5 linked regions of the Homo sapiens genome follow. The protein of the gene in region 1 interacts with the protein of each later gene in a biochemical or structural test. Each region holds a gene or a part of one and is shown in the gene's direction. Other genes may lie near its edges.

Region 1 (3,520 bases):
CTGAGGTGGGCAGATCACCTGAGGTCAAGAGTTCCAGACCAGCCTGGCCAACATGGTGAAACCCCATCTCTACTAAAAATGCAAAATGCTGGCACATATAGTCCCAGCTACTCAGGAGGCTGAGCCAGGAGAATCGCTTGAGCCCGGGAGACGGAGGTTGCAGTGAGCTGAGATCACGCCATTGCATGCCAGCCTGGACAACAGGAGCGAAACTCTGTCTCAAAGAAAAAAAATTTAAAAAGATGTCCAACATGGCCAAGCTCTTACTCCATTTCCCCAGGAGCTCCATTTGATAGTCAAAAAATCTGTCCTACAAGAAGCTATTCTTCTACCTTTTACAGTTCATCACAAGACCTACAAGCAATTCCAAAGTCCTGTCTCCATTAGTCATTTCTCAAACCTTTTCCCAATACCATCTCATTTTGTCAGTGACCTGAACAGCAGCACCAGCCTGTCTACACCCTAAAGCTGGGGTTTCCTCTTGAAGGTCTGTTCTGGCAGCAGCAGGTCATTCTTCCTTATCCTGTCCCCCACTCTGACCTATTCATTTTGGTGAATTCTCAGAGCAACATGTGTATCTATTCAGCAGGAGCTCTGGAGTTAGACAAACCTGGGTTTGGATTCTAAAAGTGTGGTATTGGTTTGCTATATGACCTTGGTTTCCATCTCTCTGAAGCAAGGATAATGAGATTTGTTTTGAAATTCAATGTTCTAATATATTTAAAGTACTTGGCACATGGCAGGTGTTGAATGAGTGGTAGTTATTACTTTCTTAATTGAATTTTGCATGTTTTTTCTTTTCAGAGAGCCCGAGCCCAGCACATTGTGCCCTGTACTATATCTCAGCTGCTTTCTGCCACTTTGGTTGATGAAGTGTTCAGAATTGGGAATGTTGAGATTTCACAGGTATGTCAAATAATTTGTGAAAGAATCACTTACTCATAATAAAGAATGAAATAAGACTTCATTAAAAAATACAAAAATGTAGCCTTGGTTTCAGGGGGAACCAGACCTTTTTTTTTTTTCTTTGTTTCTTCTAACCTAGGTCACTATTGTGGGGATCATCAGACATGCAGAGAAGGCTCCAACCAACATTGTTTACAAAATAGATGACATGACAGCTGCACCCATGGACGTTCGCCAGTGGGTTGACACAGATGTAAGTGGCTGTTTTTGAATCATGATGGGGTTACTTTGGAACTGTGGAGATGTTGAACTTTTTTAGTCTTTTTAAAGTTTTTTCTTATAAAAATAATACAAAAAGACATCAAAGACAGATACTCTAAAGTAAAAGGTTAGTAGATTTGACTATATACCTTCCCAATATACCAAAAACAGAATTAAAAGTCAAATGACAGGAGACAGTAGAATGTTAAGTTCCATTAGAACAAAGTTTTTTTTGAGACAGAGTCTCACTCTGTCGCCCAGGCAGTGCAGTGGTGGAATCTCGGCTCACTACAACGTCCGCATCCCGGGCTCAAGCGATCCTGTGCCTCAGCCTCCCAAGTAGCTGGGATTACAGGCACCTGCCACCACGCCCGGCTAATTTTTGTATTTTTACTAGAGATGGGGTTTCACCATCTTGGTCAGGCTGGTCTTGAACTCCTGACCTTGTGATCCACCTACCTTGGCCTCCCAAAGTGCTGGGATTATTACAGGCTTGAGCCACCACACCCAGCCCCTGCTTTTTTGTTTGTTTGTTTGTTTGGTTTTTTTTTTTGAGACAGAATCTTGTGCTGTCACCCAGGCTGGAGTGCAATGGCGCAATCTCAGCTCATTGCAGCCTCTGGGCCCCAGGTTCAAGCAGTTCTCCTGCCTCAGCCTCCCAAGTAGCTGGGATTACAGGCACCCGCCACCACACCTAATTTTTTGTATTTTTAGTAGAGATGGGGTTTTGCCATGTTGGCCAGGCTAGTCTCAAACTCCTGACCTCAGGTGATCCACCCTCCTCAGCCTCTCAAAGTGATTGGATTACAGGCATGAGCCCTCACGCCCGGCCTAGAACAAAGATTTTTATCTTGGTCACCGCTGTAGCCTTAGCACCTAGAGCAGTGCTAGTCACATAGTGGTCCTGGAATAAGTATTGTTTAAATGAATGTGGAAAATATTTGCAACATATTACAAACATTTAAATTTTTAATTAATATAAAGCTCCTTTTTGGCTTGGCATGGTGGCTCACGCCTGTAATCCCAGCACTTTGGGAGGCCGAGGTGGGCGGATCACGAGGTCAGGAGATCAAGACCATCCTGGCTAACACGGTAAAACCCTGTCTCTACTAAAAATACAAAACATTAGCCGGGTGTGGTGGCAGGCGCCTGTAGTCCCAGCTCCTCGGGAGGCTGAGGCAGGAGAATGGCATGAAGCTGGGAGGCGGAGCTTGCAGTGAGCCAAGATTGCGCCTCAAAACAAAAAAAGACAAACAGTGGTGACCTAGCAGAACTCCACAGCTTAGGAGTTTACATCAAGGAAAGAATTAAAGACAGGTACAAAGATTTAGGCCAGTGAAGTGGCTCACGCCTGTAATCGCAACACTTTAGGAAGCCAAGGCAGGCAGATCACCTGAGGTCAGGAGTTCGAATCCAGCCTGGCCAACAGGTGAAACTCCGTCTCCTAAAAATACAAAAATTAGCCGGGCGTGGTTCTGCGCACCTATAATCCCAGCTACTCAGGAGGCTGAGGCAGGAGAATTGCTTGAACCTGGGAGGCAGAGGTTGCAGTGAGCCGAGATCATGCCACTGCACTCCAGCCTGGGCGACAGAGCAAGACTCTGTCTCAAAATGAATAAATAAAAATAAAGCAATCTCAAAATACTAGCAATAAAGGATTATTAAGTAAACCATGACACATTTATAACATACTACAAATGATACAGAAAAGCGTGTATTGCCACAAAGAAGTGTTTGCCATAAATTGTTGAGAAAAGCATATTACAATGTGGTATGCAGGATTTGACCCAATTTTTACAAAGCAGCATATATATAAGTGTCTTTATAAACATGGATAAAATAGACTGAAATACAGTATATACTTTTTATCCTTTTATTTTTCAATTGTGCAGAAGGCCTCTTGGTGTTTTGTATTTTGTTTTTGAAATACATTCATTACAGAAAATTTGGATAATAAAGACTGTTTTAGGCTGGGCATGGTGACTCACGCCCGTAATCCCAGCACTTTGGGAGGCCAATGCTGGCGGGTCACCTGAAGTCAGAAGTTTGAAACCAGCCTGGCCAACGTGATGAAACTCCATCTCTACTAATGATACAAAAATGAGCTGGGTGCCTGTAATCCCAGCTACCCAGAAGCTGAGACAGAAAAATTGATTGAACCTAGGAGACAGAGGTTGCAGTGAGCCAAGATTGCGCCACTGCACTCCAGCAGATTGCGCACTGCTCTGTTGCTCTGGGCAACAGAGCAAGACTGACTCAAAAAAAAAAATGCGGTTCTCCTTCAAAAACCACAAGTTATCTATAGAGAAATAACTTGGTAGTTATGTAATTTTTAAATTTTTTCCTTCTCAGA
Region 2 (3,520 bases), on another chromosome or scaffold:
ATCGCCTGACCTCGTGATCCACCCACCTCAGCCTCCCAAAGTGTTGGGATTATAGGCGTGAGCCACTGCGCCTGGCCCCTCCACTTCTAATTGTAGTTCTCTTGCAGTTTCTACTACATCTGAGGTGACTTCCTCCACTGAAGTCTTGAATTCCTCAAAATCGTCTATGAGGGTTGGAATTTCTTCTTTCAAACTCCTGTTAATGTTGATCTTTTGACCTCCTTCCATAAATCATGAATGTTCTTAATGGTATCTTGAATAGTGAATCAAAACCTCCTTTCTAGAAGGTTTTTAATCTACTTTGCTCAGATCCATTAGAGGAATCACTATCTATGAATCACTGTGGATTTCTTTCAAGAACTTTTCATCCAGACACGGTGGCTCACGACTGTAATCCCAGCACTTCAGGAGGGCAGAGCAGGAGGATCCCTTGAGCCCAGGAGTTTGAGGCTGCAATGAGCTATGACTGCACCTTTATATTCCAGCCTGGCTGACAGTGAGACCCTTTCTCAGTAGTTGCATTCACAACTTGGCTAGCCGTTTGGCACAAGAGGCCTGGCTTTTGGCTTGTATCAGCTTTCAACGTGTCTTCCTCACTAAGCTTAATCATTTCTGGCTTTCGATTTAAAATGAGAGACATGTGACTCTTCCTTTTGCTTGAACACTTAGAGACCATGATAGGGTTATTAATTGGCCTACTTTTGAATATTGCGTCTCAGAGGATAGGGAGGCCTGAGGAGAGGGAGAGGAGAACCACCGGTTGGTAGAGCAGTTAGAACATACACAGCATTTATAAAGTTCACCATCTTATATGGCCACGATTCATGGTGTCTCAAAACAATTACAGTAGTAGCATCAAAGATCACTGATCACAGATCAGTATAACAGACGTAATAAAAATGAAAAAGTTTGAAATATTTCGAGAATCACCAAAATGTGACACAAAGACAGCACATTGTTGTTGGAAAAATGGTGCTGATAGACCTGCTTGATGTAGGGTTGCCGCAGACCCTTAGCTTGCAAAAAGCTGTGTAAAACGAAGTGCAGTGAAATGAGATGTGCTTTTATACCTTAAAGGTGGGGACTGCATGATTTACTGAAAGATAGGATATATGGGATGCAAGATAAAGAGGAGAGAAGGATAATTTAAAGTTTTTTTGCCAAACAATTGGAAGGATGGAGTTGCTATTAACTGAGATAGGTAAGAATGTGGATGGAGCAGATTTGGAAGGAAGTCCAGGAATTAAAGTTGGAATATATTTGTGTCAGGTAGAGATATTGAATAGGCTTTTAGCTATTAGTCTACTTTCAGGGGAGATTTGTGGCTGGAGCTATAAATTTGGGTGTTGACACCATATAGATCATATTTCAAGCTACAAGAGTGTTAATTTAAAACCATTCTCCAACTTTGCAGAAAATTCAATTCTGCATTCCATAAAAAATGATGAGTTCATATCCTTTGTAGGGACATGGATGAAATTGGAAGTCATCATTCTCAGTAAACTATTGCAAGGACAGAAAACCAAACACCACATGTTCTCTCTCATAGATGGGAATTGAACAATGAGAACACATGGACACAGGAAGGAGAACATCACACTCTGGGGACTGTTGTGGGGTGGGGGGAACGGGGAGGTATAGCATTAGGAGATATACCTAATGCTAAATGACGAGTTAATGGGTGCAGCACACCAGTATGGCACATGTATACATATGTAACTAACCTGCACATTGTGCACACGTACCCTAAAACTTAAAGTATAATAATAAAAAAAAATTCAATTCTGCATTAAACTGAATCTGAACAATTAGTGTTTTATTTTTATTTTATTTTATTTATTTTTTTAAATAGAGTCTCTTGCTGTCACCCAGGCTAGAGTACAGTGGCACCATCTCGGCTCACTGCAGCCTCCACCTCCTGGGTTCAAGGGATCCTTCTGCCTCAGCCTCCTGAGTAGCTGGGACTACAGGCACGCACTACCACACCTGGCTAATTTTTTGTATTTTTGGTAGAGACTGGGTTTCACCATGTTGGCCAGGCTGGTCTCGAGCTCCTGACCTCAAGTGATCTGCTTGCCTTGGCCTCCCAAAGCACTGGGAATACAGGAATGAGCCATCACACCTGGCCCAAACAGTTAGTGTTTATTGTATGGCAGATGCTGGAAATACGGACTTGGCTGAGTCAGATGAGATATGTTATAAGTATGAATCAAAATACAGTGTGACTGATGATAGAGGCATATAATAGCTGATTTCAGAATGTAGAGGAAATTGGGAAAAGCTTTTGGAAGAAGTGTCTTAGGAGATGTATAGAATTTGGGAAGAGATGTTTCCTAGGTAGAGAAAGAGGTGTCAGTACAAGGCAAGTTCTGGAGATTGCAGGGTTCTGGTGTGACTGAAGCAGAGTATGTGAAAGGTATGGGGAAGGGTAGGGTAAGAAAATAAATTAGAATCTCATGGAAGGTCTCTAGGAAGCTGTCTTAGTCCCTATTGTGCTGCCATAACAGAGTATGACCTGTTGGGTAATATATAATGAACAGAAATTTATTTGGCTCATAGTTCTTGAGGTTATGTCCAAGATCAAGGGGCTGTTGAGGACCTTCTTGCTGCATGGTGACATCAAGAAAGGCATCACATGGTGAGAGAGAGTGAGAGAAGGTCAAACTCATCCTTTATTATTGTTGCTTTTTGAGACAGGGTCTTGTTCTGTGGCCCAGGCTGGAGTGCAGTGGCACATATATGGCTCACTGCAGCCTCAACCTGCTGGGCTCAAGTGATTCTCCCATCTCAGCCTCACAAGTAGCTGGGACTACAGGCACATACCACCAAGCTTGGCTAATTTTTGTATTTTTTGTAGAGACAGAGTTTCGCCAGGCTGCTCAGGCTGATCTCAAACTCTTGGGCTCAAGTGGTCTGCCCGCCTTGGCCTCCCAAAGTGTTGGAATTATAGATGTGAGCCATCATGCCAGCCCCTCCCTCAACTTTTTTTTTTTTTTTATTTGAGACGGGGGGCTGGGTGCGGTGGCTCACGCCTGTAATCCCAGCACTTTGGGAGGCCGAGGCAGGTGGATCACTTGAGGTCAGGAGTTCGAGACCAGCCTGGCCAACATGGTGAAACTCTGTCTCTACTAAAAAATACGAAAATTACCTGAGCATGGTGGCACATGCCTGTAATCCCAGCTACTCGGGAGGCTGAGGCAGGAGAATCGCTTGAACCTGGGAAGCAGAGGTTGCAGTGAGCCAAGATTGTGCCACTGCACTCTAGGCTGGCCAACAAGAGCGAAACTGCATCTCCCCCGCCAAAAAAAATAAAATAAAATAAGAGACAGGGTCAGCTGGGCATGGTGGCTCACGCTTGCAGTCCCAGGACTTTGGAGGCTGAGGCAGGCAGATCGGTTGAGCCCAGGAGTGTGAGATCAGCCTGGGCAACATAGTGAGACCCCATCTCTATACAAAGAATAATTTTTTTAAAAGAGACAGAGACAGGGTCTTGTGCTGTTGCCTAGACTGGAGTGTAGTG
Region 3 (3,520 bases), on another chromosome or scaffold:
AGCAATCTGGAAAACCCTGAACCGCCCTGTACACACAGGGGTTGTCATCTAATCAGGAAGGGAATCTGAGTGCAGCTGGGGAAACTTAACTCTTTGACAACCAGTTCCCGTTTCCATCAGCTGCTCAAGTTCCTGGTGAAACCAATGCCACTGTGTCCTGTGAGGCACTAACCTGGCCCGCCCTGCTGTCTGTCCTCCAGTTCAGTTTTCTTTCCACTGGATAAGTGGCTTTCACCTTCACTGTGCATCTGAGCATTTGGAGGAATTATTATAAAGGTCCTTTCGCTCAGACCTCCTAGTCAAGAGTCTAAGTGGTCGAGCCTATGAATCTAAATTTTTACATGCACCCAGAAGCCCAATCAGGTCTGAGAACACTGCACTTCTCAACAGAGCAGAAGATAAGCAGCAATTTATTCATCTATTTCTACAGAAGCTTCTGTTTATAAAGCACTGGCTACATGCTTTAGTAAGAGATAAAAATATACACAATCTCTAATATCACAAGCTCTCGAAAACAACATCTACCCAGAGTAGAGGTAAACATTGTTTAAAAAGTGTTGGGTGGCAGTGGTTCATGAGGCAGCGTCTAGATGAAATGCAAATGTACAGATCATGACGGTCAGCCTTTAGAGAAAGGAGAGCGCCTCATGGGAGGGATGGTCAGGAAAGGCTTTCTTGGAGGCGTGACTGGCTCCTTGAATATTGAGAATATTGAGAAGGGTAAGAGCAACAGTAGGAGAGTCCTAGGCCCATGAAAGGAATTAGGAGCCTATGGGGCACCTGGGCATTGGTTCCTGGGTGGCAGGTGTGGATCAGGGTCAGATCCCTGTATAGCTATTGGAAACAGAAGTCCGGTTCCCAAATTGATAGAATTACCACAGAGGGCGGTAGGAATATATGGTGGTGGTGATTAACCTTTTTGTATTCTAAAAACTAGTTTGAGCCTGGGTAACATGGCGAAACCCTGTCTACGAAAAATATAAAAATCACCCTGGCATGGTGGCATATCCCTGTAGTCCCAGCTGTTCAGGAGGCTGCGGTGGGAGGATGGCTTAAGCGCAGGAGAACAGAAGTTGCAGTGAGCCGAGATCATGCCTCCGTACTCCAGCCTGGGTGACAAAGCGAGACCTTGTCTCAAAAAAAAAAATTAATTTGAAACTGCTGAGGATATGGACCCTATCCCTAGCAAATACACATCCCCACCAAAGACATGTGTTGACAATTTCTGAGGATACCCCTGAAGCCCCATCCTTGGATCCCACCAGATAAAGAACCCCAGTTCCTCTCTGAGGTCATACAGGCCAATTTGCAATACTGCACATCCTCCCTACTCAAAGGGAGAGAGGTTGAGGGGTGTGCTGGTTCCTTTTGAAACTGCCCCCATGATGTGTTCACTGTGTACTCCTGGTCAGCACTTGGGGAAGTTCCCTCTGCCTGCTTCTTTCTTAGGACTTCTAAAACATCAGCCAGGCCGGGCGTGGTGGCTCACGCCTGTAATCCCAGCAGTTTGGGAGGCCGAGGCAGGTGGATCACCTGAGGTCGGGAGTTCGAGACCAGCCTGGCCAACATGGAGAAACCCTATCTCTACTAAAAAATACAAAATTAGTCAGGTGTGGTGGTGCATGCCTGTAATCCCAGCTACTCAGGAAGCTGAGGCAAGAGAATCACTTGAACCCGGGAGGCGGAGGTTGCGGTGAGCCAAGATCGCACCATTGCACTCCAGCCTGGGCAAAAAGAGTGAAACTCCGTCTCAAGAAAACAAAACAAAATAAAAACATCAGCCAACTGTGGGCATTTTCCTTCACAGATAACTGCGACCTCCACTTCAAGGTGGCCCGAGATCGGAGTAGTGGCTATCCGCTCACAATTGAGGGCTTTGCATACCTGTGGTCAGGAGCCCGTGCCAGCTATGGGGTCAGAAGGGGCCGTGTATGCTTCGAGATGAAGGTGAGTAGGAGCAAGAGAAGGGGAAGGGACAGAGAAGTCCATCCATTGTAATATCCTGATACCAGCCACCTTGGTCAGAGCTGCAACTGCAAAAGAGATTGGATTGTGCAATACCATGTCCAAGCAGACAAAACTGTGATGAACTCAAGACAACTACATCATTGCTAAATATCATATCAGAAAAGCAGGCCAACCATGCATTGCTTCATCAAGCAGATATTTCCTTGGTGAGATTTGACCCAGGTATTATGTAGTCAACCAGTGTAGTGATGACATGTTTGTAGAACTGAGAAAAGAAGTTGTTTGGAAGAAAAGTGATCTAGAAAGAATAGACTCAGATGTCACTTATTAAAGGGAGGCCAGAGGGAGAACAGGGCAAAGAACTGCCAGCTTAGGCCAGCCTCTGCTGTCATCTCTCCACAGTTCCATGTCAAGTTATGTTTATGAAAATAATAGATGCTCATGTTTAACAAAAGTTCAGACAGCACAGAAAAGTACAGGATAAAACAGGTTATTCTCGCCAGGTGTGGTGGCTTTTGCCTGTAATCCCAGCACTTTTGGGAGGCCAAGGCAGGTGGATCACAAGGTCAGGAGTTCAATACCAAACTGGCCAAGATGGTGAAACCCTGTCTACTAAAAATACAAAAAAATTAGCCGGGCATGGTGGCGGGTGCCTGCAATCCTAGCTATTCAGGAGGCTGAGGCAGAGAATTGCTTGAACCCAAGAGGCAGAGGTTGCAGTGAGCCGAGATCACGCCACTGCACTCCAGCCTGGGTGACAGAGTGAGACTCTGTCTCAAAAAAAAAAAACAAAAAAACAAAAACAAAAAAAACAAAACAGGTTATTCTCATGTCCTCTCAGTTCCCATCCTACCATCCTACTCCCTGGAGGGAACTTCTGTGTTAACAATTTCTTACCTGTGGTTTGTGTATCCAAACTTACTGATGATAGCTAATAAGTATAGAGCTCTTTGCATGCACAAGATACAGCACCAAGCTCTTTACATGGATTATCTCCATTAATCCTCACAGTACCATCTGGAAACAGGTACTGTTAGCCCCAGTTTTTAGAGGTAGAAGCTGAAACACAGAGGGTTATATTTTATTGACCACGACACCATTGATGTAAGTTGTGCATTATTTTATGTACCTCTCATAGAGAAACACTGCAACAAAATAAACTACGCAGTGTTTTCTTTTTTTGTTTGTTTGTTTTTTTGTTTTTGAGATGGAGTTTCACTCTTGTTGTCCAGGCTGGAGTGCAGTGGCGCGATCTCGGCTCACTGCAACCTCTGCCTCCCGGGTTCAAGCAATTATCCTGCCTCAGCCTCCCCAGTAGCTGGGATTACAGGCATGTGCCACCCTGCCCGGCTAATTTTTGTATTTTTAGTAGAGATGGGGTTTCTCCATGTTGATCAGGCTGGGCTTGAACTCCTGAGCTCAGGTGATCTGCCTGCCTTGGCCTCCCAAAGTGCTGGGATTACAGGCGTGAGCTGCCGCACCCAGCATACGCAGTGCTTTCTCATCACATTTATTGTAAAATGGATCCTGATTTCAGAGATTTTAAAATGTG
Region 4 (3,520 bases), on another chromosome or scaffold:
TGGCTAACATGGTGAAACGCCATCTCTACTAAAATCCAAAAAAAAAAAAAAAAAAAAAGCCAGGCATGGTGGCACACACCTGTAGTCCCAGCTACACAGGAGGCTAAGGCAGGAGGATCACTTGAACCCAGGAGGTCAAGGTGGCAGTAAGCAGTGATCACACCACTGCACTCCAACCTGGGTAACAGAGCAAGACCCTATCTCAAAAAAGAAAAAAAAAAAAAAAGTGGGTATTTTCAGCATTTTCTGGCAAAAGTGGGAAAATATTGGGTCCTGAAATGTATATGGAACTATTTTTTACAGGTGATCATAAGGTCCACAGATTATTAGATGGCATGTCAAAAAATCCTTCAGGGAAAAACAGAGAAACTGTTCCAATTAAAGATAATTTCGAATTAGAGGTACTTCAGGCACAATACAAAGAACTTAAAGAAAAGGTAAGTGACTTAACTTGTGGTTTTTGTAGCTAATTCATTCACTTACGTGTTTAAAAGCATTGTACAGTAAAATATACAAAAGTTGTAAAACAAGTGTCTAGATTCATCCCTATGACATGGGAAAAGACTAGGGAAAGAAAACCAGAAAGTTTAGGCTGAAAGAAACTAAATTGTGAGATTCCTAATGCCAAAGGCAAGAAGAAAAACACTGTATACCAGATCCAAAAAGAGATACAAACTGTTAGGGTACTAAGATGAATTTATAGCATGTATCTTCATGTGAATAATACAACTTCATAATGGTTGCTATTTTCATTAGCAGCTTTGCAAGAAAGCAGACACTTCATATCACCATCTGTAGGTCCCTAAGAAAACCAGGAATATGTGGAATTTTAGTTGTGCAAGGTATGTGACCCAGATTTTTTTTTTTTTTTTTTTTGGAGATGGAGTCTGTCATCCAGGCTGGAGTACAGTGACACAATCTTGGCTCACTTCAACCTCTGCCTCCTGGTTTTAAGCGATTCACATGCCTTAGCTTCCAGAGTAGCTGGGACTACAGGTGTGCACCACGACGCCCAGCTAATTCTTGTATTTTTAGTAGAGACGGAGTTTCACCATGTTGGCCAGGCTGGTCTCAAACTCCTGGCCTCAGCCTCCCAAAGTGTTGGGATTACAGGCATGAGCTACCACACCCAGCGACCCAGATCGTTAATGCCTCTTAGAGCCTAAAGAATCCGGCCAGGCGCGGTGGCTCACACCTGTAATCCCAGCACTTTGGTAGGCCGAGGCCAGTGGATCACCTGAGGTCAGGAGTTCAAGACCAGCCTGGCCAACATGGTGAAAACCCGTCTCTACTAAAAATACAAAAATTAGCTAGGCATGGTGGCGGGCACCTGTAATCTCAGCTACTCGGGAGGCTGAGGCAGGAGAATTGCTGGAACCTGGGAGGTGAAGGTTGCAGTGAGCCGAGATCGTGCCATTGCACTCCAGCCTAGGCGACAATAGCAAGACTCCGTCTCAAAAAAAAAAAGGAATCTGGTCAGGCAAGGTGGCTCATGCCTGTAATCCCAGCACTTTGGGAGGCCAAGGTGAGAGAATCGCTTGAACCCAAGAGTTCAAGACCAGCCTGGGCAATACAATGAGACCCTGTCTCTACAGATAAAAGTGAAAATTGGCCAGGCTAGTGGCACATGCTTTGTAGTCCTAGCTACTCAAGAGGTTGAGGCGAGAGGATCACTTGAGCCCAGGAGTTCAAGGTTACATTGAGCTATGATTGTGCCACAGCATTCCAGCCTAAGCAACCCCATCCCCCTCCCTGGCAAAAAGAATCTGCATGCATGAGTGGCAAGTGTATGCTTAAGCTATCTTGATGAATATCAGCTGTCCCATGAACAGGCCTAGCAGACCATGGTGACATCTGGTTGCTGTGGATATATTTTGAGTACTCATTTGTCTGTTTTTCCTGTGCTTTCTCCATCTCCCCAACTACATGTTAAAACAAAGTACCTAAGTAGTTTTCTCTTACAAAGTTTTCACGAGATTAATTTGGGATTTACAGATGAAAGTAATGGAAGAAGAAGTTCTCATTAAGAATGGAGAAATTAAAATTTTGCGAGACTCACTACATCAGACGGAATCCGTTCTAGAGGAACAGAGAAGATCACATTTTCTTCTTGAGCAAGAGAAAACCCAAGCACTCAGTGACAAGGAAAAGGAATTCTCCAAAAAGGTGACCCAGAGCATTTGTTTTGCACCAGCTTTGCCTGCCCACTGAGTTCCTTTGACCAGGGTTGCCTGTAAATCTTCCAGGGAGATTTCAACACTTGTTTGTCTTAAATACTTTCTGCTATCATCTCATTGCCATCCACTCTTCTTCCAGGGTCTGGATATATTTTGGAAAGGGATTTAGATGAAACTCTATTTTGCTGTGGTAGTTGGTCTTGGCAGGAGTAAATAACTAGCTTAGCATTTCTAGAAACAGGTTTACATTAAGGCTCTTTTGCTAGATCAGAAACTCAACTGACCTGGCTTAGGCTAAAAGGAAACGTATTGGCTTCCATATCCAAGTCTGGGAAGAACCGGGGTATGCTGGGACCTTAAATGACTTAAATCTTGCCAGGACATTTTTATTCTCTATGCTATAAACAGGCTCTATACTTATGGTAGAGGGTGTGTTCTCCAGAAGCTCCTGGGCTCATATTTTATAAATACAGAGCAGAATTAAGACTTAGGGCCACATGCAGTGGCTCACACCTATAATCCAGCACTTTGGGAGGCTGAGGTGAGAGGATTACTTGAGCCAGGAGTTCGAGACCAGCCTGGGCAACTAGTGAGACCTCATCTCCACAAAAAAGAAAAAGAAAAAATGAACAAAATTATCCAGGCATGGTGGTGTGCACCTGTAGTCCCAGCTACTCAGGAGGCTGAGGTGGGAGAATTGCTTGAGCCCAGGAGGTTGAGGCTGCAGTAAGCCATGATCATGCCATTGTACTCCAGCCTGGGCAATAGAGCGAGACCCTGTTTCAAAAAAAGACTTAGGCTCCCTCATCTCAAGTTTTAAAATTCTGAGAAAGGCTCTGATTGGTTTAACTTGAGTCAGTTGTCTGTCCCTGGCCAATTGCTATAACCAAAAGCAACCAAAAGCAAAAAAATGACAGCTCCCATTCTAATAAAATAGTCAGAGGTAGGGAAATTATTGAATTTTTTTTTTTTTTTTTTTTTTTTTGAGACAGGGTCCAGGGTTTCACTCTCTTGCCCAGGCTGGAGTGCAGTGGTGCAATCACAGCTCACTGCAGCCTTGACCTCCCAGGCTCAAGCAATCCTCCCATCTCAGCCTCCCAGGTAGCTGGAACTATAGGCACACACCACCAGGCAAAGCTAATTTTTAAATTTTGGTACAGACAGGGTTTTGCTGTATTCTCCAAGCCGTTCTCAAGCTCCTGGGCTCATGCAGTCCTCCCACCTTGGCCTTCCAAAGTGCTGAGATTACAGGCGTGAGCCACAATGCCCAGCCTGTTTCTCAGGGAAAGGAAAATGCTATTCTGGAAGGAAAAACAGTAGGTATCCAGTACCTACTACAACTT
Region 5 (3,520 bases), on another chromosome or scaffold:
ATCCCCATGATCTTACCCTGGGAGCTTGTCCACTATCCTGTTGTCAGTCTACCTACCTATTCCCAATCATCTGTGGCCTTTCCTTTGCCAAGGAAGTCTATTCAATTGGAAAAGAATCCCCTGTCATGTTAGCACTTAATATTACCTGGAGGTAGGAGAAAGGAGAACTTCGTTCATCTTATTTCCTGGGGACTTAGTCCCCAGAGTGTTAATATTTCCTCCTCTCCAAGAAACTGAGGCAGATTCTGCTCTCTGTCCTCTTGGCCACTGGTTCCAAGTCTTTCTTTAGGCATGACCCTCTTTTGTTGTATATGTGTCCTTTGCTCCTTCCATGGATTCCCATGATGTGAGAGATTTTATCTGCCAAATAGTAACGTAATTTTTCCCTTCCAAATTAACAAAGCCTTCCGTAACTGTATACACTAAAGTCAGTGCCCTAAAGGTTGGGAAAATCATGTCTTCAGAGTGTACCGTGCTAAACGCTTTACATGAATTATTTTATTTAGTTTTTAAAACAATCCCATAAGGTCGGTTTTATTTACATTTTACAGAAAAGGAAACAATATTCTCAGTCACATAGTAAGTGGAAGAACCACTTATATAAAAGAAGTATATGAAAATGCATAGAAAATAATCTGGGAAATTATTTCTGGGAGATGGAGAGTGGTGAAGAGCTTTCAGTTTTTTCTCCGCCACTTCCTCTTTTTTTTTTTAGACAAAGTCTCACTCTGTCACCCAAACTGGAGTGCAGTGGCATGATATCGCTCACTGCACCCTCCGCCTCCCAGGTTCAAGTGATTCTTGTGCCCCAGCCTCCCGAGTAGCTGGGATTACAGGTGTGCACCACCACGCCCCACTAATTTTTGTATTTTTAGTAGAGACAGGGTTTCACCATTTTGGCCAGGCTGGTCTCGAACTCCTGACCTCAGGTGATCCACTCGCTGGGATTACAGGTGTGAGCCCCCATGCCTGGCCTCTCTACTTCTTTTTTTTTTTTTTTTTTTTTGAGATGGAATCTCGCTCTGTCACCCAGGCTGGAGTGTAGTGGCACGATCTCGGCTCACTGCAAGCTCTGCCTCCCAGGTTCACGCCATTCTCCTGCCTCAGCCTCCCAAGTAGTTGGGACTACAGGTGGCCGCCACCACGCCCGGCTAATTTTTTGTATTTTTAGTAGAGACAAGGTTTTACCATGTTAGCCAGGATGGTCTCGGTCTCCTGACCTCAGGTGATCCACCTGCTTCGGCCTCCCAAAGTGCTGGGATTACAGGCGTTAGCCACTGCGCCTGGCCTCCGGCCCTCTACTTTTATATTGTTTAGATTTTTAATATAAGCATATAGTTGTTTTGTAATTTCAAAAAAAAATTCTCAAAGATAAGAAAGAAAATTTGGGCTGGGTGCAGTGGCTCACGCCTCCCAGCACTTTGGGAGGCCAAGGTGGGTGAATCACCTTAGGTCAGGAGTTAAAGACCAGCCTGACCAACGTGGAGAAACCCCATTTTTACTAAAAAATGCAAAATTAGCCGGGCGTGGTGGTGCATGCCTGAAATCCCAGCTACTTGGGAGGCTGAGGGAGGAGAATCCCTTGAACCCGGGAGGCAGAGGTTGTGGTGAGGCAAGATCATGCCATTGCACTCCAGCCTGGGCAACAAGAGCGAAACTCCGTCTCAGAAAAAAAAGAAAGAAAAAATTTGGTTCTCCTAGGCCTTTAACATAAAATGTTCTAAAGGATTTTCCTCATAATTTAAATGGGAATTATGACTCCAAAGTAGATTTCTAGAGTAGAAATTACCCTTTAGCATCATTCACTTAAACTTTGTAGAAAAATTCAAAGGTATCTGGTATGGAATGGGTAGTCTAAAGCAGAGATTTCCTTGAGTGGCTCATAAGACAGTTTTCATGGCATTTCATTTACTTCTCTTTTCTTTCCTTTTTGTTTTCTCTTTAAAATTCTTTCTACTTATTTTTCTGTTTTCTCCAATTGTTCATTTTAAACATCTTGTTTATACTATTGGAGTAAATATGTTTTTTTCTTCTTTCTTGCTCACACTCGAAATTTGCTATAGACACTCCGAGGGCATTGACTAGTCCCTTTAGTACCCCTAAAGAATGAACTGCTCAATAAAGTGAAGTATAAGTTTGATATAGACATGCTAAAATTAACTGGGCTTTGGATCATGGCCCATTATTGATTAAAGCTAAGGTAAATGGTCTTCCAAGTTTCTGTACTTTTGAATTGATCAGTCTTGTGTTGGTATGCAGTTCTAGAATTTTATTACTGGCCAGGTGTGGTGGCTCACGCCTGTAATCCCAGCACTTTAAGAGGCCGAGGCGGGCAGATCACTTGAGTCCAGGAGTTCAAGACCAGCCTGGGCAATGTGGCAAAACCCTATCTATAAAAAAATTTAATCGGGTGTGGTGGTGCACACCTATGGTCTCAGCTATTTGGGAGGTGAGATGGGAGGATCTCCAGAGCCCGGAAGGCAGAGGTTGCAGTGAGCCAAGATTGCACCACTGCACTCCAGCCTGGGCGGCGGAGTGAGACCCTGTCTCCAAAACAAAAAAAGGCCAGGTGCAGTGGCTCGTGCCTATAATCCCAACACTTTGGGAGGCCAAGGCAGGCAGATCACCTGAGGTCAGGAGTTCAAGACCAGCCTAGCCAACTTGGTGAAACCCTGTTTCTACTAAAAATACAAAAATTAGCTGGGCGTGGTGGCATGGACCTTTAATCTCAACAACTCAGGAGGCTGAGGCAGGAGAGTTGCTTGAACCCAGGAGGTGGAGGTTGCAGTGAACCGAGATAACGCCACTGCACTCCAGCCTGGGCAACAGTGAGACTATCGCAAGAAAAAAAAAAAAAAGAAGAAAAGAATTTTATTACCTACTTTGGGCTATATTTCTAAGCAGTCCAGTTCTGACAGGACTAGCTGTATGTACTGAGACACAATCAGCTTTACATATTTTTCTAGCTGTATTTCTATTAATATCAGAAGGGAATGCCTCCTTCCTACCACTGTCATTTTTAAATGTTTTTTTCCCTTTGCCTTGGAGGAATTATAAAGATGTCATGAGGAGCTTGGTCAGCTGTATCAGAAATACAATGTTCATTTCTACTGTTGTTTTTGTTCTCTATAGCTTCCCATTGACCGGGGTGGAGGTGAAGGAAAGGCCATGTACATTGACACTGAGGGTACCTTTAGGCCAGAACGGCTGCTGGCAGTGGCTGAGAGGTAGGTTACTGGTTTAGATAAGAGAGACTATGGCTACACTTATCAATGTAGTGATTGCCAGGGTTAGTTTGGCCGAAGAATGTCTCTTCTATAACCCCACGTCCCAAAGTTGTATGTGTGGTTCAAAAGAATGACTTCCTTAGTAGAAAAAGGCATTCTTTTTTTTTTTTTTCTTCAGATGGAGTCTCGCTCTTGTCACCCAGGCTAGAGTGCGGTGGCGTGATCTCAGGTCACTGCAACCTCTGCCTCCCGGGTTCAAGCAACTCTCCCACCTCAGCCTTCCTAGTAGCTGG

The links.
Region 2: the proteins of RPA2 (region 1) and NUFIP1 form a complex in vitro, tested with the Homo sapiens proteins (one study listed by BioGRID).
Region 3: the proteins of RPA2 (region 1) and HNRNPUL1 form a complex in vitro, tested with the Homo sapiens proteins (one study listed by BioGRID).
Region 4: the proteins of RPA2 (region 1) and ATRIP form a complex in vitro, tested with the Homo sapiens proteins (one study listed by BioGRID).
Region 5: the proteins of RPA2 (region 1) and RAD51 form a complex in vitro, tested with the Homo sapiens proteins (one study listed by BioGRID).

What each region holds. Positions count from the first base shown.
Region 1 is NC_000001.11:27,904,567-27,908,086, reverse strand, and holds part of RPA2 (replication protein A 32 kDa subunit), read left to right. Parts: intron 1-804; coding exon 805-906; intron 907-1,045; coding exon 1,046-1,159; intron 1,160-3,520. UniProt on the Homo sapiens protein: As part of the heterotrimeric replication protein A complex (RPA/RP-A), binds and stabilizes single-stranded DNA intermediates that form during DNA replication or upon DNA stress.
Region 2 is NC_000013.11:44,982,967-44,986,486, reverse strand, and holds part of NUFIP1 (FMR1-interacting protein NUFIP1), read left to right. Parts: intron 1-3,520. UniProt on the Homo sapiens protein: Binds RNA.
Region 3 is NC_000019.10:41,274,352-41,277,871, forward strand, and holds part of HNRNPUL1 (heterogeneous nuclear ribonucleoprotein U-like protein 1), read left to right. Parts: intron 1-1,807; coding exon 1,808-1,947; intron 1,948-3,520.
Region 4 is NC_000003.12:48,449,734-48,453,253, forward strand, and holds part of ATRIP (ATR-interacting protein), read left to right. Parts: intron 1-303; coding exon 304-437; intron 438-759; exon of another isoform or gene 760-842; intron 843-1,995; coding exon 1,996-2,166; intron 2,167-3,520. UniProt on the Homo sapiens protein: Required for checkpoint signaling after DNA damage. Required for ATR expression, possibly by stabilizing the protein.
Region 5 is NC_000015.10:40,715,673-40,719,192, forward strand, and holds part of RAD51 (DNA repair protein RAD51 homolog 1), read left to right. Parts: intron 1-3,132; coding exon 3,133-3,227; intron 3,228-3,520.